Linked DNA regions of Homo sapiens: regions 1, 3, 4 and 5 are each reported to be linked to region 2. Evidence: microRNA targets listed by miRTarBase, many of them from high-throughput screens and not tested one by one. Region 2 holds a microRNA gene; each other region holds the end of a gene's coding sequence.
Evidence for each region. The annotated mature microRNA hsa-miR-2467-5p reads UGAGGCUCUGUUAGCCUUGGCUC and lies in region 2 at 3,359-3,381, shown strand. An mRNA with a match to its seed (bases 2 to 7 or 8) in the 3' UTR can be bound and repressed. Matches are read on the target gene's strand: a 7mer-m8 pairs with bases 2 to 8, a 7mer-A1 pairs with bases 2 to 7 and ends in A, and an 8mer does both.

Region 1: the mRNA of SSH3 is a reported target of hsa-miR-2467-5p. Seed matches in the 3' UTR shown: 7mer-A1 at 902-908 and 7mer-A1 at 956-962.
Region 3: miRTarBase lists QSOX1 as a target of hsa-miR-2467-5p. Seed matches in the 3' UTR shown: 8mer at 3,817-3,824, 7mer-A1 at 3,077-3,083 and 8mer at 2,691-2,698.
Region 4: the mRNA of RIMS4 is a reported target of hsa-miR-2467-5p. Seed matches in the 3' UTR shown: 8mer at 2,379-2,386.
Region 5: the mRNA of ALX1 is a reported target of hsa-miR-2467-5p. The part of its 3' UTR that is shown has no 7-base or 8-base seed match.

Annotation. Positions count from the first base shown.
Region 1 is chr11:67,311,106-67,316,207 of GRCh38, forward strand. SSH3 (slingshot protein phosphatase 3) reads left to right here. Exons shown (of 14, transcript NM_017857.4): 14 at 486-1,487. The coding sequence ends at 782. Among named protein-coding and RNA genes, the nearest start is that of SSH3, 10 kb to the left of the region's middle.
Region 2 is chr2:239,350,050-239,355,151 of GRCh38, reverse strand. It overlaps MIR2467 (microRNA 2467), which reads left to right and starts at 3,348; the gene lies at 3,348-3,428. It overlaps HDAC4 (histone deacetylase 4), which reads left to right. Exons shown (of 27, transcript NM_001378414.1): 2 at 2,234-2,474. The coding sequence starts at 2,453. RefSeq lists a silencer at 2,492-2,685.
Region 3 is chr1:180,196,085-180,201,186 of GRCh38, reverse strand. It overlaps QSOX1 (quiescin sulfhydryl oxidase 1), which reads right to left. Exons shown (of 12, transcript NM_002826.5): 12 at 1-4,925. The coding sequence ends at 4,150. Among named protein-coding and RNA genes, the nearest start is that of LHX4, 32 kb to the left of the region's middle. RefSeq lists an enhancer at 5,078-5,102.
Region 4 is chr20:44,752,011-44,757,095 of GRCh38, reverse strand. RIMS4 (regulating synaptic membrane exocytosis 4) reads left to right here. Exons shown (of 6, transcript NM_182970.4): 5 at 59-198; 6 at 744-5,085. The coding sequence ends at 962. It overlaps KCNK15 (potassium two pore domain channel subfamily K member 15), which reads right to left. Exons shown (of 2, transcript NM_022358.4): 2 at 4,783-5,085. Among named protein-coding and RNA genes, the nearest start is that of KCNK15-AS1, 8.3 kb to the right of the region's middle. RefSeq lists enhancers at 1-360, 4,608-5,085.
Region 5 is chr12:85,300,679-85,305,780 of GRCh38, reverse strand. ALX1 (ALX homeobox 1) reads right to left here. Exons shown (of 4, transcript NM_006982.3): 4 at 3,997-4,626. The coding sequence ends at 4,306. Among named protein-coding and RNA genes, the nearest start is that of LINC02820, 15 kb to the left of the region's middle.

The DNA.
Region 1 (5,102 bases), not on the chromosome of region 2:
AGGTGTGGGTGGGGAAGGATAGGGAGGCGTGGTGGGTTGATGGGCGGGTGTGGGCGTTGCTAAAGGCAAGAGGTCCTCACCCAGCACCGGACGCACGCATCCACCCAGCCCAGCTCAGGGGCTGGTGCCGGCACGGGTTTCACCTGCCGGCTGCCTACGCAAAGGCAGAGAAAGCATAGGAGGGGAGGAGGGCAGGGAGGCCTGGGTCTCCAGGGAGCTGAGGAGGGCTTCTGGGGGCCAGAAGGAAGCTACAAGCAGGTAGGGTTCAAGGAGCGGGGCAGCAGGGCTGGGGTGTTGTCCTCCCTCCCGAGGAAGCGTGGCTGTGGACAGCTTGGCTTTTGGCGTGCGTGCCACAAACATTCCGGCCCTCGCCTCCTCCTGGCTCTGTGCTTGGCACCCCTGCCCCAGATCTTCCCGGCTCTGTGCTTGGGCACCCCTGCCCCAGAAAGGCCTCCCATGGCTTCCGTATCCTCACACCTGTCCAGGTCTTCTCTTCCCACGAGTCTTCACATGAAGAGCCTCTGCAGCCCTTCCCACAGCTTGCAAGGACCAAGGGAGGCCAGCAGGTGGACAGGGGGCCTCAGCCTGCCCTGAAGTCCCGCCAGTCAGTGGTTACCCTCCAGGGCAGTGCCGTGGTGGCCAACCGGACCCAGGCCTTCCAGGAGCAGGAGCAGGGGCAGGGGCAGGGGCAGGGAGAGCCCTGCATTTCCTCTACGCCCAGGTTCCGGAAGGTGGTGAGACAGGCCAGCGTGCATGACAGTGGAGAGGAGGGCGAGGCCTGAGCCCTCACACATGCCCACGCTCCCCTGACACTGAAGAGGATCCACAACTCCTTGGAGAAACACCCTCACGTCTGTTGCCGCACACATTCCTCTCAGCTCCGCCCCATACCCGTCACTACAGCCTCACCTCCCACCCCTGTCACTACGGCCTCACCTCCCACCCCTGTCACTACAGCCTCACCTCCTACAGCCTTAAGTCCCAGGCCCATGTCTGCCTGTCCAAGGGCTCAAGACTTTCTAACTGGGATGTGGTAGAGGGACTGAAGGTACCTTTGGGGGCAACAGCACCCTAGTTTCATTCTCAACTCTAGCCCTGCACACTCACCTGTGGCACGGAATGAAAACAGAGCTTCCCGTGCAAAAAGGGTCACGCCTCCCACCCCCGCCCCCTCCCTGCACCTCCTGTCCTCTCCCAGTTCATTCCTGGAACCAGCCAGGCCAGGCAACCAGTGGCCCCCAAAGGCAGGCAGGATCCTCAGGCCCCAGCCGCGGGAGGCTGGAAGGGCTGGCAGATCGCTTCCCTCATCCACCTCCACCGGTCCAGGTCTTTGCTGCTGTCCCCAGACCTCCTGTGACACCACGCCAGATCACAGGGCACCAGGCCAGAGATAGTCTTCTTTTTGTCCTTTCTGGCCTCTGGCTAGTCAGTTTTTCATAGCCTTACAGTATCTGGCTTTGTACTGAGAAATAAAACACATTTTCATATTTGGTTATTTTCAATGTGACGATGAAGCCATCTGTGTTGCAGTCAGACCCTTCTCTGCTGGCTGGGGAAGGTGGCCGCCCCTTCCTCCCAGCAGTCTCCTCACAATTCCAAGGTGGCTCGTGACAGACCTATTTGGGGGAGTGCCGTGTTTGGGCGTGGCGTGGGAGGAAGATTGGGTAAGAGAAGAGAGGAAGTCAGTGCTATCTCCCCATCTCCTGGGGCAGGGCCTGGTAAATATGACCTGCTCACACCCACCCGCTCAGACAGGTCGGGCAAGGGAAGAAGTCGTCAGCGGGCAGCAGGCATGTGGCTCCACTGTGAGAGCTGGAAGGGGTTACTCATGAGGAAGTGCCTACCTGGACAGGACCAAGCCTGTTCCAAAAGCGAAGCCTCCTTGGGACACTCGGCGCCAGGTTCTCTGGCATGTTTTGGGTCCCAAGAATCACCTTCCTCCTGCTACAAAGCAAAGGGCCTGACTTTCCAAGCCAGGCTATTGCGGCCTGGGAAGAAGGACCCTTGGTGACACTTCCCCTCCTGCCCAGGGGTTCCTTCTGCTCAACTTTAGTGTCCAAGAAGAGTTAGTCATTCCATCTTTTTTTTTCTTTTTTTGAGACAGAGTCTGGTTCTGTTGCCCAGGCTGGAGTGCAGCGGCACGATCATGCCTCAGTGCAGCCTTGAATTCCCAGGCTGAAGAGACCCTCTCACTTCAGCCTCCTGAGTAGCTGGGACCACAGGCACACCTAGCTAAGTGGTTGTATCTTTGTCACTTCCTTTTTTTTTTTGAGACAGGGTCTTGCTCTGTCACCCAGAATAGAGTGCAGTGATATGATCTTGGCTTTCTACAGCCTCAACCTCCCGGGCTCAAGGGATCCTCCTGCCTCAGCCCCTGAGTAGTTGGGACTACCTACATGTGCCATCATGCCTAGCTAATTTTTATCTTTTATTTTTTGTGGAGACGGGGTTTTACCATGTTGCCCAGGCTGGTCTCGAACTCCTGGGCTCAAGCGATCTGCATATCTCGACCTCTCAAAGTGTTGGGATTACAGGCGTGAGCCACTGCGCCTGGCCCATCTTTGTCACTTCTATCCCTCTTCCCAAGATTATGTATGCTCTCTGCTCTATGATACATTACCCTGGTTTGGGGAAGGGGCCGGATTCAACTCCTTCCCTCAAAGCAGTCCTTAGAGATGGGAGCTGGCACCAAGCATTCTCAGTGACTGAGACTTCACGCCCAGTTTTAAGAATGAATCTCTCACCCAGGCCCTGGTGGGACTCCTAGCACTGCTCTAACCCTGAAGTGCGCAGTGGCAGGAGACTTGGATTTAGCCCCAGCTTCACCACTTATGAATTACTTTGCTTTGAGTCTCTGTTTCTTTCTGTAAAATAAAGGGATTAGACCTGGAAATCCCCAAGTACCCCTCTTCACTTTGATGCATTTTATATTATTTATTATTTATTTATTATTGAGTACAGTGGGGTGATCTCAGCTCACTGCAACCTCTGCCTCCCAGGCTCAAGACATCCTGCCTCAGCCTCCTGAGTAGCTGGGACTACAGGGCCACCACGCCTGGCTACACTTTGATACATTTTAACAATACATGCTATCTAGACATTGCTAGATTAGCCTCTACCTCCCTTCCAGAAGAGGAATCCTTGGCACCTATCTGGGTGGTATGCCTAAGGGTCACAAGATGTGGGGTACATGCAAGCTAGTTCTGATTCTTGATCCATCCTGCTGAGCAAACACTGGGGGCTACCCCCCACTCTGTGGCCAACTAGGAGTCCTACCCAGGCTGCCCTTTCAGTATTCCTGGCCTAGGGCTGCAGATGGGTGGGGTGGTGGTGAGAGTGTCGGGGTAAGCCAAGGCCAGGCCCTGCCCCTCCTGCAGCCTGTGCATCTCAGAAGGCAGGTCCAATCAGGAACTCAGAGCTGTGGGGCTCACTAGAATCCACTAGAATCCAGGAGGATTCTAAGAAGTAAGAAGTCAGCAAACAGGGAAATGAAGACTGGAGGGGAAACCGCATCAAAAATACAGACAAGAGGGTGCCGGGTGTGGTGGCTCATGCCTGTAATCCCAGCACTTTGGGAGGCTGAGGCAGGCGGATTGCTTGAGCCCAGGAGTTCGAGACCAGCCTGAGCAACATGGTGAAACCCCATCTCTACAAAACAAAACAAAACTACAAACAATTAGGAACCCTATTGGCTGGGTGCAGTGGCTCACGCCTGTAGTTCCAATACTTTGGGAGGCTAAGGTGGTTGGATCACCTGAGGTCAGGAGTTCGAGACCAGCCTGGCCAATGTGGCAAAACACTGTCTCTACTAAAAATACAAAAATTAGCTGGGTGTGGTGGCGTGCACTTGTAATCCCAGCTATTTGGGAGCCTGAGGCAGGAGAATTGCTCGAACCTGGGAGGCTGAGGTCGCAATGAGCCAAGATTGCGCCATTGCACTCCAGCTTGGGTGACAGAGTGAGACTCCGTCTCCAAAAAAAAATAAAAATAAAAAAAACCCTATGTATACACAAAGCTCACCCAAATTGCTAAAGGGGCAAAAAATAATAAGAAGGATATAAAATGAAAAGTAAATCTCACTCCTACTCTGTCCTCTAGTCCTTCACATCTACTCAGGCAATGACTTGTTACCAGCTGCCTTTGATGCCCTCCAGGTACCCCATGCTTATGTAATCAAATATATTGGTATGTGTATTTTTTAAAAATACAGACAATAGCATGTTAACATACTATTCTACACTTTGAAAATTGGTTCATATCAGAGTTCCACATCGGTACCGTGGTGTTATATATACATTGGTTTTCATCCAGGCTCCTGGCTCATAACCCTCATAGCCCTTGTTCAGTCTTTTGTTCTAATGTTGAGTGTGTCAGGCCTCAGGAGCAGGCCGCAGGAAACAACCTCTTGACATTCTGCCCTCCTCTCCCTTGCCCCAAGGCAGGGCTCTACTGTTCACCCTCACTTTCAGATTGTGGGTTATAAGACCCTCCCCAGAGAGACCCTCCTCCTCACTCTATACCCTGGTGTAAGGAATGCTGATGTCATGAAGCTTCCATTAAAAACCCAAGAGGACTGGCTTCTTGGAGCTCTGGGTAGCTGACCATGTGCAGGTTCCTCCCCGGTGGTGCACCTAGGGAGGGTGTGCACACTCCGCACCCTCCCCCGTGCACATCTTTTCACCTTTATCCTTTGTAGTATCCTTTATAATAAGCCACTAAACGTAAGTGTTTCTTTGAGTTCTGTGAGCTGCTCCAGCAAATTAATCAAACCGAAAGAGGGGATCGTGGGAACCCCAACTTGAAGCTGGTCAGGCAGAAGTTCTGGAGGCCTGGACTTTTGACTGGGATCTGAGGGGAGGGAGATGCAGTCTTGGGGGCTGAGCCTCAACCTGTGCGATCCGACACTATCTCCCGGTAGACAGAGTTGGAATTGAATTGGAGGCCACCCAGCTGGTCTGTTGCTTGGTGTGTGGGGAGAAAAACCCCACACCTTTTTTTTTTTTTTTTGAGATGGATTCTCACTCTTGTCCACCCAGGCTAGAGTGCAATGGCGCAATCTTGGCTCACTGCAACCACCACCTTCCAGGTTGAAGCGATTCTCC
Region 2 (5,102 bases):
GACTCTTACTTATGTATCTTCTGACAACGTTTTTGAATTTTAAGATTCAAGAAAAAAATGCCAGTAGATTCCAGGCAGAAGAAAATGGTAACAACCACAACATCAAGACTCGGCCCCCAAAGTTTTACCTGGAAAGAAGCTGTAATTGAGCTGGACTTAAACTTCCCTACAATGTTGAGGGGGGAATGACATCCAAAAATTTTGAGGGGGGCATATTTGTGATCTAAGATTTTTATACCCAGCTGAGATGTGTTTTTTTGTGTGAAGGATACTGTCATCTGAGATTTGTGAGGGTTTGAAAAATATGCCATCTACATTCCCTTCAAGAAAATGTCTCTTTCTGACCAAGAGATGAATAAACATTCTGACCCTGAAGACAAATAAGTCATTGTCATTCCTAAGGAGATAACCAGATACAGAACAACAGTCATGAAGATATTAATCAGAGTTGTAGATACAATGAACATAAAGTTGGAAAGCATCTAGATAGCCAGCCTTGGGGGCGGGGGTGATTCTTTACATGATGAACTGGTTAGAGTTCTTTGGTTATAAGCAATTGGCAAAAAAAAAAAAAAAAAAAAAAAAAAAATTTCTAGACTAATTAAATCAAGAAAAGGAATTGGTCACACTTTTAAAGAAAGATGAACACAGAAGCCTCTGAAAGCACTTGAGCTGGGATCAGCCAGGGACTCTCAGTGGTAGGAGTGCTGAGACTTGTCTCTTTTGGGTTCATCTAGTGACTGATCTATTGAAGAGGCAGGCCTTGGAAAGAGAACTTGATGAGCTCAGCTGGTGCCACATGCCACTCTTTGGCCCGACACTTCCCTGGGAGCAGCAGGCTCATCCGAAGCTCCTGAAGTGGGGCGGGGCAGCTGTCTATCCACACATGGAATAGGAAACAGCCCTTCAAAACGAAGCTTACCAGGTATTGTTAATGCCATTGGAAAATGCCTGGCTGTAATATCAGCACAGAGAACGTGATAGACAGCTGTATCACTAGAGGTTCGTATGGGCAAAAGGCAAAGAAAAACAACGGCAAGGAAGCATGTCAGAATGTTACCAAGGGCTTGTCTGTGTGTGATGGCATCATGGATGACTTTTTAAATACTTAACCTGTGATGCGCATGTATTGCTTTTATAAGCAGAAAATGAAAACCTGAGAAAATGGTCATTATGAAGACAGAAACATGAGGGAACTATTTTAGGTTATCATGTTACGTGAGGAATGCGGACTTTAGAATTAAATTCTGTGATTACACAGACATTGTGACTACGAATGTCTATGGATCCAGGCTGATGCAAGCGTGCAGTAATGACATTTTGTGGTGGGAATGTGCTGAAAGTGATTTTTCTTTTAAAACATTTTATTTCATATTTATTTCATAAGCTAATATGACAGAATAAATTTATATTAGTTGGAAGATACTCTGCTTCCTTTCAAAAGCCTAATGTTGGAGAAACTTCTGGAAGGGGTAAGGAAGGTGTCTCTAGATCAGATATTTTGAACCAGGGGATGATATTATCCCCCAGAGGACCTTTGGCACTCCCTGGAGACATTCTTGGTTGTCATGACCTGGAAGATGCTGCTGGCATCTGGTGTGTGGAGGCCCAGGATCCTGCTAAATATCTTATAATGTGTATGGCAGCCCTACACCCCAACACCTAAATACGCAAACCAAAATCCCAGTGGTACTGAGGCTGAGAAACCCTGCTCTCTGGAGACATTTTTACATGTCTGTGATTTACTAACAAAAATCCCACTGCTCGTATTTGTAGAAATGATTCCGTCGAACTGTTCTATCAGTCCTTGGTCAGAACAAGGATAAAGAAGGAAGTTGGTGGGGCGTGGTGGCTCAAGCCTGTAATCCCAGCACTTTGGGAGGCTGAGGTGGGTGGATCACTTGAGGTCAGGAGTTTGAGACCAGCCTGGGCCAACATGGCAAAACCCCGTTTCTACTAAAAATACAAAAATTAGCTGTGCCTGGTGGCATGCACCTGTGTTCCCAGCTACTCGGGAGGCTGAGGCAGGAGAATTGCTCGAACCCAGGGTTGCAGGGGTGGTGGAGGTTGCAGTGAGCCCAGATCGTGCCACCACACTCCAGCCTGGGCGATAGAGCAAGATTCTGTCTCCAAAAAAAAAGAGGAAGTCATCATTTCCCTAGTTGGATGTTGTTTTCCAGATCGGAACTTCCATGTTGTAACTCCAGTCTCTTTTCTCCTTCTGACCTTGCAGGTTCATCTGCAGAAGCCAGCGGACGCCTCTGTTCAACTTGTGGGTTACCTGGCTCATGAGACCTTGCCGGCGAGGCTCGGCGCTTGAACGTCTGTGACCCAGCCCTCACCGTCCCGGTACTTGTATGTGTTGGTGGGAGTTTGGAGCTCGTTGGAGCTATCGTTTCCGTGGAAATTTTGAGCCATTTCGAATCACTTAAAGGAGTGGACATTGCTAGCAATGAGCTCCCAAAGCCATCCAGGTAAGGCCGGGTCATTTCTTCTCTGGGCACACAGCGGGGCTTTCTTTGCCCAAAGTAGAAGTTCTTGTGACTGCAGCTTGCTTTCTGGATTTGAGACTTTTGTTTTTCTTGATAGTGGTCACTGTTGGTTTTTGACAGCACAAAGTGCAAAATGGATGGTTTATTCTTCCTCTTGGTGAAAGAAGAATGATAAAACCTGGGAGGATGTGGAGTCAAGTCTGCGACCCCGGTTTGCAGGCTGACTTGAGAGGCACACAGGTTTCCTCGATGCTTTTTGACAAGGGTGATGTTGAAAGGTCAGGTTGTGATGTGGAGAGCTGGTTTCTTGCCCAGTGTCTTTGTTGTTTCATGAGGGGTTGTGTGAGGGGTGGGAGTGCTCCTCCAACTGGGCGTCTGGGCTGTCTGGGAAGAAGCTCATGTTCCCACTGAGGTCGTGGCCACAGTTGCTCCTGGTGTTTGAGGGCCTCTGTGAGGGGCTGCACTAAGCATTTTACAAGCATTTAGTACAGCCCCAGATCATCTCAGGCCTGGAGGGAAGAAGTAATTTGCCTGAGGTCACAGAGCTGGTAGGTGGGGGACCCACATGATTGGGAAGCAAGCTTGTCCTGCTCTGAGCTTCAGAAGCATGTCATGGGCCCATCCATTTACGACTTCACACTTTCTGTCCTTGGAAAGTCACCGAGAGCGTGCACCATAATGAAACCTCGAGGCCTGCCGCCGACCTGCCTGAGTGTGGGGCTCCTGCAGAGCCAGTCCTGTGCTGCCCAGCTTCCTGCCACTTCCAGCGCACCGTGGCCTTCAAGGGCACTTAGCCATCGACTTCTGTCTTGCGTCCACATGAGAGAGAAGACGGTGGCCACTGGACAGACGCTTGGACAGGCACCTGAGGCTCTGTTAGCCTTGGCTCTGGGTCCTGCTCCTTAGAGCAGAGGCAGAGAGGCTCAGGGTCTGTCTGGGTCACTCTCTTTGAGATTGCCGGAACGCTTACACACATCTTTCCCTGGGTGGAATCGTCTTTGTCTGAAAATTCCAGAGGGCAAGATTCCAGGTTTTTTTAGATATGAAAGTTTTATTGAGTTAAATTGTTTATGTATTGACTGATGTAAAGAAATGGTTTATGATCATTCCAAGACAAAATTAAGCGCTATGGCTCAAAGTGTCTAAATAGACATTGAATGGAGCTGGCTCTCTCCCTCCTACACTGGGCTGCTGTTGGGTGAGAGTGTATCTTTTTTCTGTGTCTAAACATAGTGTGATGTGTGTGAGCATTTTCATAGAGTATAATTCTATAGGCAGGGCCCTGTGTTTTACATTCTGTCCATTTTAATGTGTTATAAGCATCTTTTGGTATCAGTATGTGTGCAAATATAACTTGCTCTTTTGATACCTTGCGAATGGATATTTATGTGGTTGTAGCAGTGTTTATACCAATTCCAAATTGGCATCAAACAATTATTATACATATATTTTGTAAACTTCTAAGTATCACTACTAGACAAATTCCAGGAAGTGGAAGCTGGGTCAGTGAGCCCGTGCACTTAAAACATCATTAGGTTGACTGTCAAATTGCTCCAGAAGCCTCGTTCCAACTGATCTTCCTAATTCCAGTGTAAGAGGATGCATATTTTTCATTTGTGCTGTACCAGCACTGGGTAGGTTCAGTCTCTCTCATTTTTGTCAGTGTGCTATGGGAAAATTATTGTTTGAGTACACTTGATTATTTTAATGGGGGTGCATATTTTTGTATGACTTGGTGTACACATAATCATAATTTGTACATGCTCTGCAGGCATTTGAAGAGAAAGTATGCTCTTAGGATTTTGTTTCAGTCTAAAGACGTCTGTATGTATGTATCAATATTGTATTTAAAGTTCTCGGCCGGGCGCAGAGGCCCACAGCTGTAATCCCAGCACTTCGGAAGGTCAGGGTGGGCAGATCACAAGGTCAAGAGATTGAGACCATTCTGACCAACATAGTGAAACCCCATCTCTACTAAAAATACAAAAATTAGCTGGGCGTGGTGGCGTGTGCCTGTAGTCCCAGCTACCCAGGAGGCTCAGGCAGGATAATCGCTTGAACCTGGGAGGCAGAGGTTGCAGTGAGCTGAGATTGCGCCACTGTACTTCAGCCTGGCGACAGAGCAAGACTCCGTCTCAAAAAAAAAAGTTCTCTCATTTATATATATTTTATTTATATATAGGAGGATATGTATCCTTTCTTTATATGTTGTTTTAATTATATATTAACTCAGTTGAGTTATTTAAATCAGTATAGCTTTACTTATTTTTTTCTGTCTGCTCGATTTCTTGGAAAAGTGTATTTTTCTACTGTGATTATAGTCTTATAATATTCTTTTTACATTAATAACCATTTTTTGCTTTATATAGTTCAGTGTTTTTTTTTAAAGCTTAAAAATTAATGACTGTTCTTTTGGTAGATCAGGTCTCTTATCAAAATATAATATATTTCTCTTTGTTTAATGTTTCTTTGACCGAGAGCTTATAGTGTTTCATGAGGTATTTCTACCCTTGGTTTCTTTTGGCTAACAAATATTTCTCCATCCGCTTGTCTCTAACCTTTTCAGGCCGGGTTCTTTGAGGCTCAGCTCTGGAAACCGCGGGGTGCTGG
Region 3 (5,102 bases), not on the chromosome of region 2:
GCTGGCAATACATGGATGGGAATCCCAGGAAGAGGGAGAGGAATTTAGCAGGGACCCGCAAACTAAGTCTGCGGCCCCAATTTCACAGACGAGCTGAGCCAAGGTCACGCCCAACGAACCTGGTTTCTTCCCCTCCTTCAAACGAGGCCTAAAAACAAGGACCCGAGACAGGGCACTTCAGCCTCGATGTAGGGAATGGAGCGAGAGCTCTAGAAAAGGCGGATTCCTTCAGGGTGTCCCCACTCCTTGACACCAACACACAACAGTGGTTACTGCCACTGTTGGAGGGAAGAAGGGCTGGCACCCAGCAGCACCACCATATAAAGTCTCAGGAAAGTGTGTAACTCTACCGATGGAACAGGACATGAAACAGAATCACATGTGTTAGAAGGGGTAGAGACTGCAGCTCCAGGGTTGAGTGGGTGGGATCTGGGGTCAAGTCCTGGATCTACCTCTCACCATTTGGGAGAATAGGGCAAATGTATTTATTTTGGTGGGAGTAAAGGGGATAGGATGTTTCTTAATCTCTTTAAGCCTCAGCTTCTTCATCTTGCGTTGTTGGAGGATTAAATGAGATTTAAATGAGTGCAAAGTTCAATAAATCATACACATCAATTCTCCAACAGCATACACATTTCAGGCATTTTAGGAGCCCCATCTCATGAAGGAAATCCATACTACTGTGGCAGATGGGGGTGGGGAGGCACTTTCCACTCAACACCTCAGTTCAACTCTGGCCAGTGGCACCTGCCGGGGTGGCTTGGGGCTTGCCACCTGGAGGCCCAGCTCCAGGGACACCCTTCACAGAATATCCTGTGGGAACGGCACCCCCCTCCAAGCACAACAGGGCCCCTTGAGTTTTCAGGTATCAAGACAGGAGACGACACGACATGAGCAGTGGGCTACCATTATTAAGCACTTAGTGTTTGCCCAGCATGGTACAACAATCTGGTAGGTGGGTAGTTTATCTCCAATGACACATGGGGACAAGGGGATAAGTTATCTTGCCCAAAGTCACACAGCCAGTGAGTGTTGGAAGCTGGATTCAAACCCAGACGTCAGATTCCAGAGTCCATTCTCTTCAAGGCTGGACTTGACCCCACCCTGACCCAGGGCCCAGATTTGAGGGCTCTCTCTGAGCCCACCTGACTTTCCTCCAGGGTCAAGGCTGGCTGGGTCCCCTGGAGCCCTCTCCTCCACCCCCACACCCAGAGGACAGGCTGCATCAGGGGTCTTCCCACCCCCACCCCATACCAAGGCTGCTGGAGAGGAGCCTGGCCCAAGGTGGCGCTGCCCCTCTTGGACCTCCAAGAATGCCGCATGGAGCAGCCCCTCAGGGCTGTAGTCCCTCTACACCTACATTGGGCCCCTCCAGCCTGGACCCCCACCCCTCCCACTTCCTGGCTTCCCATCCTTCAGGTCTCGCAGAAGCCTCCTCAACACCCTCCCTGCTTGGTCTCTATCCTTCAGAACCCTCATCACAACCTGTCCTTGCCTCTAGAACGGAAGCCCCATAGCAGCAGGGACCACGTATCTGTTTTAGCTTCAGTTTCTAGCCCAGTGCAGCATTGTGAAAATCCTTAGTAATATTTTTAAAAAGTTTTCGAATTCTACTTTTCTTTGCTGACTTGGCATGTGCTTTCTCCTCTGCCCGTAACCCCCGTTCCTCCTTATTTCCTTGCTAACACCTACTCGTCTTTCAAAGCTCCATGCCACTGTCTCCTTGAGGAAATTGTTCCTGTGCCCCCAGTAGGTAACACACCAGACAGAGGCGAGATTCTCTATCCCGCCCCAGACAAGGAGCCTTTGCTTTGCAGGGCTCCCCTTGGGACCCTCTCTTGCCAGGAGAGCCTCTAGAGAAGCCATCTAGAAGGGCATTCAAGACTCAGCAAGCTCCAGCTCCCAGCCTGGCAGACTGGGTGGGGGAGGGCCCAGCTGGTGGGCGAGGCTGGTTTATCGATGTTGCCGAGAGCCCTGGGGAAATCAAGGTGAAAGGCAGCCACGCTGCTGAGGAGGCCCACCCGTTTATCAACCAGAGGGGCTGGGGCCGGGCGAAAAGAGGCTTGGCTGCCAGAGGCAGCTGTGAGGTGGGAGGTCCACACCACTCCGTGGACCTGGAGGCTGGGCTACACACTGTGCAGCCCGGGCTGCTGCGACAGTGTTTCCAACATGGCGCTAATTCTAGGTAACTAAGTTTGGCTTTAGAAATACCGTCACTGGAGCCACAGGGCTTGCTGACAGAAATCCCCAGCACTTGGCATTGGGCAAGGAGCCCTTAGGGGGTGAAGGGCAGGCTTATTCAGCGGCCTTGGTGCAGTGGGCACACAGGGCACCGGCCCTGGGAGCCTCTGTCTTCCTCTTGCAGGCCAGGGTTGCCTCCTGATTGTGGGTTCCTGTCTGTCTCTCAGGCCCCCAGCCAGGGCCAGCCCAAGGGAGCAGGGGGTGCAGAGCACAACCAGGAGGATGGAGCCAATGGGTGCCTGGAGCAGGGGCACAGAGAGGGAGTCCAACCCAGGAGCCCAGCAAGGCGCTGCAGCTAAAGAGGTCGAGGGAAACATGCAGGGAGACTGCCATCCCTCCCCAGCCCCAGCTGCCCCATAGCAGGAGTGGCCTTGGCATCCCACCTGCTCCACATAGCACCCAGGCCATCTGAGCAGAGTGAAGATGTCAAAGAGAAAACCAAATCGGATTGAGGCTCCTGCTCCCCCTTAATGAGGTTCATTATCAGCAGCTCTGATCCTTGTAAAACCCAGCAGGCCGGATTAGGGGCAGGCTCTCTAATCCTGGCTGACTCCTCCCCACCGAGTGGCCAACCCTGCAGCTCTGACAAACAAGCCCTTGCTTCCTGGAGGAGCTGGAATTAGGCAGGTGCAGACAGGCTTCTCCCTCACCAGCCCAGGGCACTGAGGCAGGAGCTCTCAGGGAGGATTGGGGCAGGGGGTGGCAAGGCTGCACATCCAGAGGCCTGTCTCCGTGCATGAAAAGGCCATGGGGTTTGGGTGCAGACAGTTCTATGGGCAGTCTGTGGCCAGGAGCTGTGTGTGCTGAGGGACATCGAGTCTGGCTGCATTCCAGGTGAGGCTGGTCTCTGTGCATTCTGTCCAGACTGGACACTAGGTCTCCAAGTAGCAAGTTAAAGAACACACCAATGCTTGCCTTAACAAAAATAATTTATTCCACACACCTCCCAAGGCAGGGGGTAGCGTGGGAATCAAGCATGTGTAAGGCACTGCCCCCGCCAGACCCTTCTAACTTCTGCACACTGGAAGGTGAAACCTGGAGAGAGAAGACACTCCCCTCCCTAGCTTCTACCTGGCACCCTCCAAAGATGAGCATTCATCTTGGAGACCAAAATAAAAAAGGACAAAAGACCAGGCTCAGAGGGAGCAGAGCTCAATGGGGGGAAGTGAAAGCAGCCATCTTCTCCTGCAGCTAAGCCAGGGCAAGGCACTAGAGACCCACATCCTTCCCATGCCACCAACTCGTCAGGTCCCACCAAGCAAGCCACTCACCCTACAGCCCAGCAACCATGGCTTGCCTCACCTGGGAGACCAGCACGACTTCCAGAAGCTTCCAAACCCCACCCTGAAGCCAAACCCCACCCAGGAGGTCTGAGGAGCTGGAGGCTGGCCAGGCATAGAGGGCCCGGGGTGGTCCTTCCTCCCAGGGTGCAAAGGCTTCTTCATTGTCCGGAAGGGAGCAGGGTGGGCGGAGCCCCAGCAGCTAGTGAGGAGTTCCATTCCAGCCCACCCAGCTGGGGGACCCTCCTCTGGCTTCACTTGCCCCAGTTGAGGGCCAAGACCAAGCAGGAGAGACTGAGGCTCCAGTGAGAATGAGGCAGGACTTCAAATAAGCTGAAAAACAGGAATGTGGTGCTAAGAGGCCAGGGACTGAGCTGCCCTATGCCCACTGCCCGGGGCTGCCCTCCCTGCACAGCAGGGGAACCTGGACCCTGCTCCTGTCTTTTGTGTCAAAGGAGCTCTCTGTCCTAGCAACCCCAAGAAGCTTCACTGGAGCAACTCGTTTTCCTGAATTTCCCACACTTCTAGGCCAGACAAGGAGCAAGGGGTGGGAGGGGAGGGAATGGGGTCAGGGGGCTTGAGGTGCCTAGAGATGGCAGCTCCCTCTCCCGCCTCCTCCCCAGGTGGTTCAGGCTGCAGGGTGGCCAGCATGGCCCTTCAGGGCCCTTATCTTGGCCTGGAAGTAGGTGTACATGGCCAGCAGGCCCATGAAGGACAGGGAATAGAGCCCCACACAGAGGCTGATGTCCAGGTAAGAGAAGCCCCCTCCCAGCACCTGCAGCCACTGGCCTCGGCCCCGTCCAGCTCGGGCCTCCAGCTGGCCCTCAGGGATGTCGACCAGCTGCTTGGAGCTGCGGCCCACGCGCCTGACCTCCAAAGGGCCCCAGAGGCGGTTCTTCTCAGCCCTGGACTCAGCCAGCAATGCAGCCCCTGTGTCTCGCTTGCTCAAGTGCCACTGCCCAAGCGGCTGCTCCTGCTCATTCCTCTGAAGCTCTGCCATGTGCTCAGGAGGCTCCTGGCCTGGTGCAGCTCTGAGGCCAGGGTGCAGCTTCGGGGGTCGACTTGCCTCAGGTCCCTCAGCCGGCACATGTGGGGTGGTGTTTGTGGGGGACTTCATCATCTCAGGCTTCCCAGGGTCCAGAGTTGAATTCCGGCTTTCCAGCTCCAGGGCTCCCATCGCCAGCTCTGGGGCGGCTGCCACATTCTGCACATCCCTCCGGGCAGCTGACCCAGCTGCAGGGAAGTCCAGGATGATGTTGCTTGGGGAGAAGTGGGCCTTGAGGAAGTTGAGGGTGGCTTCCACGTCCCACACGGGCACATCCAGGCGTTCATTGTGGCAGGCAGAACAAAGTTCACGGGGTGGCCACTGCACCTTGGGGAACTGGGGGTCCTCGCTGGGGGCACCTACAGAGGGAAGCATACACAGGCTGGTGGTGACATCAGTCCCACCCAAAAACCCAGACCACACTCCTCCACTCAGAACGCCAGCTTCCTTGTCTGCAGAAAGGGCTCGCCACTGCCCTTCCAGAGGATGGGTAATTAGAAAATACAGATTACAAACACTAGCCCACAGTGGGAGCT
Region 4 (5,085 bases), not on the chromosome of region 2:
CTTTGCCCACCATTTGAGGGCCAAACTAGAACTCACCCCTGCTGGCCTCTATCCCCAGCGGCCTACATCAAGGCCTACCTGCTAGAGAATGGCATCTGCATTGCCAAGAAGAAGACCAAAGTCGCTCGCAAGTCGCTGGACCCACTGTATAACCAGGTGCTGCTGTTTCCTGAGAGTCCCCAGGGCAAAGTCCTCCAGGTGAGGGGCATTGACGCGCTCACGTGTGTGTGTGTGCACGAGCACACATGCACAGTACCAGAATGAGAGGAGGGCACCCCTGGCGGGGGGTGTCTCTGGAGGGCCTCGCCTGGAGGAAACAGGCGAGGCCCTCAGTTCACTGTGGCTGAACTGAGCTCCACAACTTACTGCACAACTTTGAACAAGTTCCCTTCTGACCCTCAGTTCCTTCATCTGTAAAGCGGGGACCCTAATAGTACCTACCTGATAACATTCTGGTGCCAGTGGAATGTGTGCTGTGTGCAGGAAAAGTATTTGCAGTTTTGCCTACAGCAAGTGTTCTACCCATTACCATCGTCACCGTCACCATTACCATCAACAGCCTCTGGAGGCCAGGGGCTTGGTGTGATGCCCCGTGATAAGAAAGGCCTGTTGAGGAATTGCAGTTTTAAGGAGGTAGAAATCACAGGACTGAGCTGGATTGGGCATGGGGCGACCCAGGTTCTGCTTCTGGGCCTGTGAGTGGCACTGGCAGGATTTGAACCACTGTGTCTCTTGCCCCACAGGTGATCGTGTGGGGGAACTACGGGCGGATGGAGCGGAAGCAGTTCATGGGTGTGGCTCGCGTGCTGCTGGAGGAGCTGGACTTGACCACCCTGGCCGTGGGCTGGTACAAGCTCTTCCCCACCTCCTCCATGGTGGACCCAGCCACAGGCCCCCTGCTCCGGCAGGCATCCCAGTTGTCCCTCGAGAGCACCGTGGGGCCCTGCGGAGAACGATCTTAGTGCTGGAATGGGGAGGGGCTCCCCAAGATGGCCTGGAGACCACCCAGCCCTGACCTGGGACCCCAGGCCCAGGGGCACATTGAACAGGAGGACGGGGCTCTCCCCCACAGTGGGGAAGCAGAACGGGGAGACCTGCCCCCCCTTGGGCCCCTCCTCACCCCTTCTTTGCCTCCTACCCCCGAGACCTCCCCTCTCCCAACGGGATTGGCTACACTTTTGACTTGGCCGGTTCTTGACCTGGTGGATGTGGCTGCAGTCCAGAGAAAGGAAAGATTGAGGTGGCAGAGCAGACCACTCTCCCTTCCCAAACTGTCCAACTTCTCCCCCTTTTTGCCTCCTCGGAAGCTCGCTGCCCAGAGCCATGTCCAGAACCCAGCCGGCCATCTCCATGGTGCCAATTACCAGCAAGTGTCTTTCCTGCGGCACCGGGTTCAGGCAGCTACTCCTGCCCCAGAGATGAAGGGGCAGCTTTGCAAGGATCCGGAGCCAGCTCCCAGGGGCCCAGAGCCCCCCACTTGAAGAGGAGCTTGAGCTTCCCTCTGCCTGCCCGTGGAAGGAGCTTTGCCGCAGCCTGTCCGAGTCCATCCGTCCGTCCCCTCCTGCCTGCCCCTCTTCTGGTGGCTCTAGGAATTGGGGTTCAGCAGGGACCAAAGGAAAGGAGGAGGTGCCGGGGGCCTGGCACAGACCCCTAGGTGCCTCGCTCCATGGGATTGCAACAAGCTAGTTTAGGAACCGCTGGCGGACTAGAAAGAATGTTGTCGTCTGTGTTCCGGTGGAGGAGCTGTGGAACCTGAGTTTCCAGAACCCCAACCCTAGAGAGCATTTGGGGGTGCTGTATTGGAGGGGGAGGCTAAGGAAAGTTGGGATTGGGACTGGTGGTGCCAAGATAAGGGTTTCTCAAATTGGAGAACCCCTCCTTGTTGCATGAGGTCAATGGTCATCCTGTCTACCCACCCTGCCTCCAGGCCAGGGGGCTGGGGAGGCAAATAGAGCCCCCCTATTTTAGTCTTTTTAAAAAAAACATCCTATACTAAGGGCAGAACCCACTGCCCCGGCCTCAATTACCTTGGCTGAAGGAAAGATGGCGGTAGGAGAGAAAAGTGAAGAGGCGTGAGTGTAAGAACTGGGAGATTCCTTTTCCAGCAGGCCTGGGTAGCTGCCTTCCCAGCCCAGCCCTCCCTGGGGCCTGCGGGAGCCCTTTTGCATGCAAGGGAGGATGGAGGCTGGCCCCTCTTTATAGAAGCACATTTCTGCCACCTCCCCTGGGAGGCACCCAGAAGCCTGCCACTCTTTACCTAGTCCCTGCTGTGTAGGGCGTAGTCCAGGTTAGCTAGGTAGAGTTAGTGCTCCAAGCCCTGGGGCCTGTTCTTAGCTCATGCATAGTCCTTACAGAGTCCCAGGACCGGGGGTGGAGAGGAGCCTCAAGTACATTCCAGGAGACCACTGTCTCCTCGCTGGCCTGGGCCTAGATGGGGCAGCCTGGCTCACAGGAGGCCAGCCCCTCCTCCTCCGCCCCCTTCCTTCCCTTGTCCCCGTAGGGTTATAGCTGGAGCTGCCTGTTATACTCGGCTGTTCTGATTTATTATTCTTGGTACTGACTTTCTTTATGAGGGACTCCTAAGGGTTGTAGGACCTTGGCAGAGGGGGCCTGGTCTCCATTAGAGGGTGTTGTTTTCTCCTGAGGACACCCAGGCTGCCTTTGGTCCCACCCTGTTCCTGGTCCCGGTCCCGGTCCCAGTCCCACCAGGCAACTCCTTCCACCCGGAAATTCTTCCCTTCCCTTAGCCTGTGGAAACCCTGGGTATTCTTTAAAGTTCTGGTCAATGTATATCACCTCCACAGAGCTGCTTACCCTGCACTGGGAAGGGGAGATGGAGACGCCCCCTTTACCCAGGAGGTCTTCAGAGTTTCCTGGGACCGCGGTGGGTGGAATCCCAAGGCTGGGGGTGGAAGGAGCAGGGCTCTGGAGGGATTCGCATTCAAGGCACAGAATTGGCCCCTTGCCTGTTTGTTTTTCTAACCAGTGTGATTTCTCTGCTGTTCGTTTATTACTTACCATTGGAATATTTTGAGCCAGGAGAGCGCCTTCTCTCTCCAGCCATCACCGCTGTGGTTGTTCAGGGGTAGCTTTTCAAAAACAGGGCAGAGCCTGGCTGTCCCAACCAGGGGGAGCAGGGGCTTGGCCCTGACAGCCTGAGCCCTTCCCCTGGTGTCTGCACAGCCTTTATAAAGAGAGAGAGAGCTCCGAAGCAATAACAACACCTGGGGGTGGTCAGTGAGGGCCCCCTCAATGATTTTCTTGTTTGTTCTGTGAAATCCCGCTCACCTCCTGGAGGGGTGGAGCAGCTGGGGGCTGGAGCCCTGTTTCTTTGTGTCATCGTGAGCATGTGCCCCTTCCCAGGGGCTGTGACCATTGGGTGTGGGAACTACGGTCTGTCCTCACCAAGGGATGGGGGTTTGGGGAGGAGAGTGACATTTTCATCATTAGCTTCGGAGAAGCTTCAAGCCCATCCTGTCCCCGCTACTGCCTGGCCCCTTGCTGACTCAGGCTGCACTGTTTGAAGAGGAGCAGAGAGGCTGGCACTAGGGGCCACTGGGGGGCTGGGGTCTCCAGGGGATGACTGTTTTCAATCTCTGGGCCAAGATCACATGCAGGATACCATGGGAAGGAGCCATCTCCACTCTCCTTCTCCAGAACCCCCTTGAAGGGCCTTTGGGACCATTAGTCCATTTCCATTTTACAGACAAGGAAATCAAGACCCAGCTTGGGGGAAAAGCCACCCCTGGAGTCACCTGTGTGTTCAGTGGCACCCCCAGCCTGGGTCCCCTCCTCCCAATAGAGGCTGAGCCGGAGCCAGGGCAGTATGAGGTGGGGCTGCCACTGCCCATACCTCCTCCTCCCTTCTTTCTTTGAAGCCTAATGGCCCCCCAAAAGATGGGCAGGACAAGCTGTAGCCCATCTGAGAGGTTGGGAAACTGAGGCCCAGAAACAGGAAGTGACTCACACAAGACCCCTCAGCAAGGGTGCAAAGGGGGAAGAACTAGGGGCTCCATTGTTCTTCAGGCGACAGGAGACCGTTGCTCCAGTGCATGTCTGCTGGGACAAGGATTCCTGGCCTCGAAGCCCTGGGCTGCACAGCCCTACTGGGCTCCACCTCTATAAACCAGTGACTTCTCTGGGCCTGGGTCTGGGGGAGAGGGTTGCCAGGGAGACTCAGCTCTCCTTGGGGGCTGGCCCAGCTGACTGAGGGTACACAGGATTGGGTCTAGACCTTGATGCCTGGGTGGAGGGCCCTTGTAAGGGGCCATAGCCTCTTCAGGACCAACTGGAGGGAGAGTTAGGAAACACCAGCTCCTGCCTGGGGCAGTGAGGGAATGGGAGCAGCTGTGGGCGCCTCATTTCAGGCAAGTCCTCCCCAAACCTTCAGATGCAGTGAGACCTGGCCTTCCTGTTGTGCTTTTCAGACTTTGTTTTCAGAATGCTTTTATCTCGAGTGTGCCCTTCGGCCCTCACAAGAGCCCCTGGGGAGTAGGTGGTGGCCTGTGCCGTCATCCCCATTTCAAAGCAGGGAGCTGAGGTCCTGGGAGGGGAAAGTGCTTGCCTGAGGTCCCACTGTGTTAGTGGGTGGGCAGGACTGGAACTCGGTTCTCCAACAGCCCAGAGCTCACTCTTTTACACCCAGAGGTGGAGCAGGTGGCTTAGGGGGTGGTTATGTACTTCACAAGCCAATTCCCTTCAGCCAGGAGCTCCTGGGTGCATTTCCGTGTCAGAAACAGTACCGAGTCCCACCCCCTCTGGAGGCACAGCTGTTGCGTCAGGCAAGGTCACCTGCATTTATTTATTGAGCAGCAGTGCTGTGTCAGGCCCAGGGACCGAGCCCCTCTCCCTGTTCCCCTATGGTGTCTCCGAGGCCCTCTGGGAGGGCCCCACATCTGGAGCAGCACCTCAGAGTGGACAGAAAGCATTAGCGTCCACGAGCTCACCCGACGCCGAGCCTGTGAGGTGGGCTGATGGTGCCCGTCTAACCCAGCGCTTCAGGGAGGTCAGAATGGAGCCGAACCCAGGGCTGTGAGCATCACCTCTGGAGCCCTTTCACTTTATGACTGCTTCCTGGACGGGTGG
Region 5 (5,102 bases), not on the chromosome of region 2:
TTAGCTAGTTCCTGTCTTGAAGCATTGTTCACCATCTTGCAGTACATTTCCAAGATTAATGACAATATGCTTATATAAAGAGAATTACTGAAACAAAAAAAACCTCTTTCAGCATTTACTATGTGCTATAAAATATCACATTTAATCATTTTTGAGATTTTGGGCCATAAATGGAGCTGTACTGCTAGGTATTTCATTTATGACTTCATTTGCATATTTGACCACCAGTGAAATTATTTAATACTACCTGGCGTATATAAAATATATATAATAGGACTTAGAGGCCAAGAGCTAAAATATTATTTAATATATCACTTTAATAAGTAGATTATCTTGCAAAAAGTCATACTTCTTAGTCAATGCAATATATGAATTTCTATAAGGAAATAATATCTGTTGAAGTTTTAAATGCCTAATTTTTAAAAGTAGAAATAGGTTAAAGAGAACAATTATGAGCTAAGTAATAAAGATATATTTTTACATTCTAATTAGAGAAAAGAGAGGTCACCACCAACTGGAATTTTAAAAATAAGATCATTTAAATTTTTCTCCTAAAATATTTGGTAGTATAAGTGACAAATATTTTAATACAAAATATGCTAACATAATTACTTATTGTATAGAATATTATCTGAATTAAATGTTGAAAGACAGAAATAAGAGCCACTGATAAATTTAGGAAATTAAAATTTTCAAAGCTTATATAAACACTGTAATTGATCTTTTCACTTCTTATTTCATCCAAGGCATTTTTTTAGTTGCTGGTTAACTAAAACTATAGCATTATATATAGAACAGCATTACATAAAACAGATGGAGGCTGGGCGTGGTTGCCCACGCTTATAATCCCAGCACTTTGTGAGGCTGAGGTCAGAAGTTCGAGACCAGCCTGGCCAATATAGCGAAACCCCGTCTCTACTAAAAATACAAAAAATTAGCCTGGCATGGTGGCAGGCGCCTGTAATCCCAGCTACTTGGGAGGCTGAGACAGGAGAATCGCTTGAACCTGGGAGGCAGAGGTTGCAGTGAGCCGAGATCACACCATTGCACTCCAGCCTGGGCAATAAGAGCGAAACTCCGAAAAACACACACACACACACACACACGCGCGCACACACACACACACACACACACAGATAGAGGTGATATGTGAATTATACCATGGCAATCACAACAAGCACCAAGTGTCTGAGATGAGAAAGTAAAGATACAAAGAGAAAACAATGGCATATTGTCTTGAGAAGAACTGTATTAAGTCCAAAGGTATTTGAGAGAAGAAAGTAAAGAGACAAAAAGTAAACAATTGCATATCATCTTGGGAGGAACTGTGTTAAGTCAAATGGTCTGCCTGTTATCCCTCCCTTGAAGGCAAAATAAGCAGTCAGATGAAAGGATGAAACTAATACATTCCCATAATTTATACACACAATTTCATGAGTTTCCTCAAGGTTATATAGGTTACATAACTGTTATTCCTTTAAGATATGTTGTCAGGACTCAGGGCAAAGACTGCAGTGACTTTATTTTTCTACTTTCATAAGATATTATGTAAGAATAAAATACTTACTATTTAATATTCATAACAAATAAATAAGACACTTTCAAAAATTTATAAACCATTTCTTAAATTTCATTTTATCCTTAAGAAACTGCAACCTTACCTAATTTTCCCATAAATTTATCTCTCCTCATGAGGTTCAAGGGTTAACCATGTTGCTCAAGAAAAAGAGTACAAGAAGCATCTTTTAAACCATGTATGCAAGGAAAATGTATGGAAGGGGCAAATAGGGGATGAGATAGCCATGGGAACAAATGTCCATGTGGTTCAAATTACTTATTGTACCAAAACTCCCAATAATACTATCAATAATAAGCCCAAATAAAAGTAAGTAAAATGTTCCTTAGTTTTTTCTCTTAAGAAAAGTATATAACATCAATATGAATTCTAGTATTGAAACTTAAATTCAGAAGGAGCAAGAGAAAATTCAGGAAATTCATTTTATGTACTTTGTTTTAGCTTTATCTTACCCTATTATATCAAAAGTTCATTTTATTTATTTTTGGCAACTTGAATACATAATAAAAATTCACTGTGTAAAAAAGGAAGTTGGAATGTTAACACAGGAAAATTCATGAGATTCTTACTGCCATAATACAATTTGAGGCATGGCTGAGGGTAAAAACTTCAGGCATGTGTTTGTCCAGGAAGATTGTGAACTCATAAAGGACAAGAACTATGATTCCATTACTTATTTTATTATTGCAAATAGTCCTTCATCTATGTTTTTAAAATATGTGAATTATACAGAGAATTATAGATGTAAAACCTTAATTAAAAAGATGTTTCAATTGAAAAAATAGTTATAGAAGCTCCAACTAATTATTACCTAATTATTAAGTATAAGGAGAAAAAGACTAGAAAAACTGAGGAAGAAAATGAAATTTGAACTTGACAATATGACTTCTGTCTCTCATTTGAAAAATATATGGTACTAGCCAAGGGATACTAAAATTTAAATTAAAGAGGAAGAAAATGAAAATGAACACTATTAATTTGTGAAATTTTTGAAAAGAAAATCTTACCTTTTTGTTTTAAGTTTTAGTTCACAAATTCCTATTAACCACATATATGAATATATATGAAAATAAGTCATTCTCTTCTAAAACCAAAAAGGATATTTAACAGCTGCCTAAATAGACTTTTAACAAAAGATCTTGCATGAAAGCATAATTCTCACAGCCAAATTGAACACATTTCTTTTAGAAACAAAAATAAAGAAAGGGAACACAAAAGTAATAAAGAATAAAGTATTATGAAGTCAGGGAATGTTTGTTTAGGACATTACTCATTTCTATCATCAGCTTGATTTAAAATTTTATTACAAAAGATGTTTAATTGCTATAAATATTTTCCCACTAAGAAGATACACTTACGGGATTTAAGTACTTTTTCCAAAATTTAATTTTAAAATTCATTTATTCTCGTCCTTTAGCCATTAGAGCTCCCAAGCATATTCCTAAAGTCTGCAGGAACCACAAGAAGATTCTACAGAGTACAAAGAGCTCAGCTCTAATCTGAGCCATGGAAGTCATCTTCATTTCAATTAATTTACTTTGCCTTTATGAACTTAAGAATCTTTCATGGAGGTTGACATTTCACTCATCTGAAAAAGCTTGGAATGTGACAGGGTAAAGGGAGGAGAAGTAAATCAAAGGGGTTAGCAATTTTCCAGATGCAACGTATTTTTCTTCTCTTCTTTTCCAACAGAAATTTTAGAAAGCTTTCTGACATTTTAATTCTCTATGCAAAAACCACAGTAGCAAAAAATGCTTAAGGCATAATATGTTGAGAAACAAACACACATGCATGTAAGCATGCACATACCCACAAAATACATATAAATTCCAACTCGCTGATGCTTTAACAGAAAATGTTACTTTCAGTGTAGTATTAATTAGTGGTTTATGTGCACAGTTTAATCAACACGATCTTAGTTTAAAAGCAACAGCAAGGTTTATAAATTTTTTCTTGTTTGTGATGATTAAGTAATTGAGTCTATGCTGGCTTCTTCACTGGAAAAATGACATTTATAAAGTCCGCTCCCATGACTATATTTTCAATCACACCAGAATACTTCAGTTATCACCTTTAGCCATGTGGCTTCAGGAAACCATGCCCAAATATCTCATGCGAATGTTGGTTATTTTAAAAGATCCCTTGTTTAACAGAGTGGAAATTCACTAAAACATCAAAGGGTAAAAACAAAAACAAAAATGAGGCTTGAAAATAAATTCTCAGCAACAGGGTTTTTGCCCACTGCTTTTTGGAGAGAGAGAGAGAGCAGTTAACTCCCCAGAACACCCTGATTCAATATTTACCTGACGACTTTGGCATCTTGACATTTTCCCCAGTGCATTTCCTTCTTTATCAGGTATTATTTTACATGAGATTTCTTGTTATACAGAAGTAACATAAATCAATCTATAACAGAAGAATTTGTTTAACACATTTATTCTTTAATAAGTTGCGTGATCATATTTCATTGACTTGTACAATAGAAAAAGAAAACCTTACTACTAAAACAGGGTTTGTGGAGACTGGCACATGGTAAACCTATTTAGTCTTTTCAGAGGTTCATTCTTAGATTTTAATGTTAAATAACAACTATTCATTTAAGCTGGTCTCACTGAATATCTTGACCTTTAGCAATTCCACACACAGCAGCTTATTGTGGTATCCTTTAAATATGAGAAATAAGAATGTTTAACTTTGCTATTAAAAGAAAAATAAAAGAGTACTGTATGTTACATGGCCCATGAAATATTGGCGGTGTGCTCCTTGGCTTTCATTCGAAGAACTGCGATACTGGAAGACCTCCTTTCAAACTCTGGCTTTGTTTCAAATGCATGTCCATTGGTTGCCCCAGTAAGAAGAGAGTCAGTGAAAAAATTGTTGAGGGGCACGTGGCTGAACTGGTTCTGGTGGTTTGAAAACCCCGTGTAACTGGAATCTGTCCGAGGCGAGTGAGAATAAGGTGTCATACAGGAGGAAGTGTCACGTGGTAACATGCATGAAGTAACCACAGAACCACCACTTGCATTTCCTGCCCACAAATTGTTCTGAATCTGGAATATATAAAACAACAAATATTACATTTACATGTTCTCACTTTTGTTCTCTTACTTTTGTTAAGTTGTATTTACTAAATTTGGTTAACTATTCATTGTTTGCTCCTATTGGGTGGTCTGTAATTACATACAACAATGACTAAAAAATAATTACTTGAGAGATCCTTCTAGTTTGTTATACTGAAATAGAGCAACAAATCTCACATTCTTGGCCACATAACGTACTCTCAAACATGTCTATCTCCTATAAAAAAGTATTATTTTCATAGTCATGATTTTAAAAATGAATCTGGAAGATTGAGTCATGACCAATTCATACGATTAGAAAAGTAGTTTAAAATCTGGTTTTAAGTTTAAAGATAGTTTTTGTCTTTCTAAACAAAATGACACAAATGCATTTTTAAAAAAAATTCTAACTGGGACTCCTGGTGTGGCAGTTTTCGTTGGAAACCATTGCTGACAATAGACTGTTC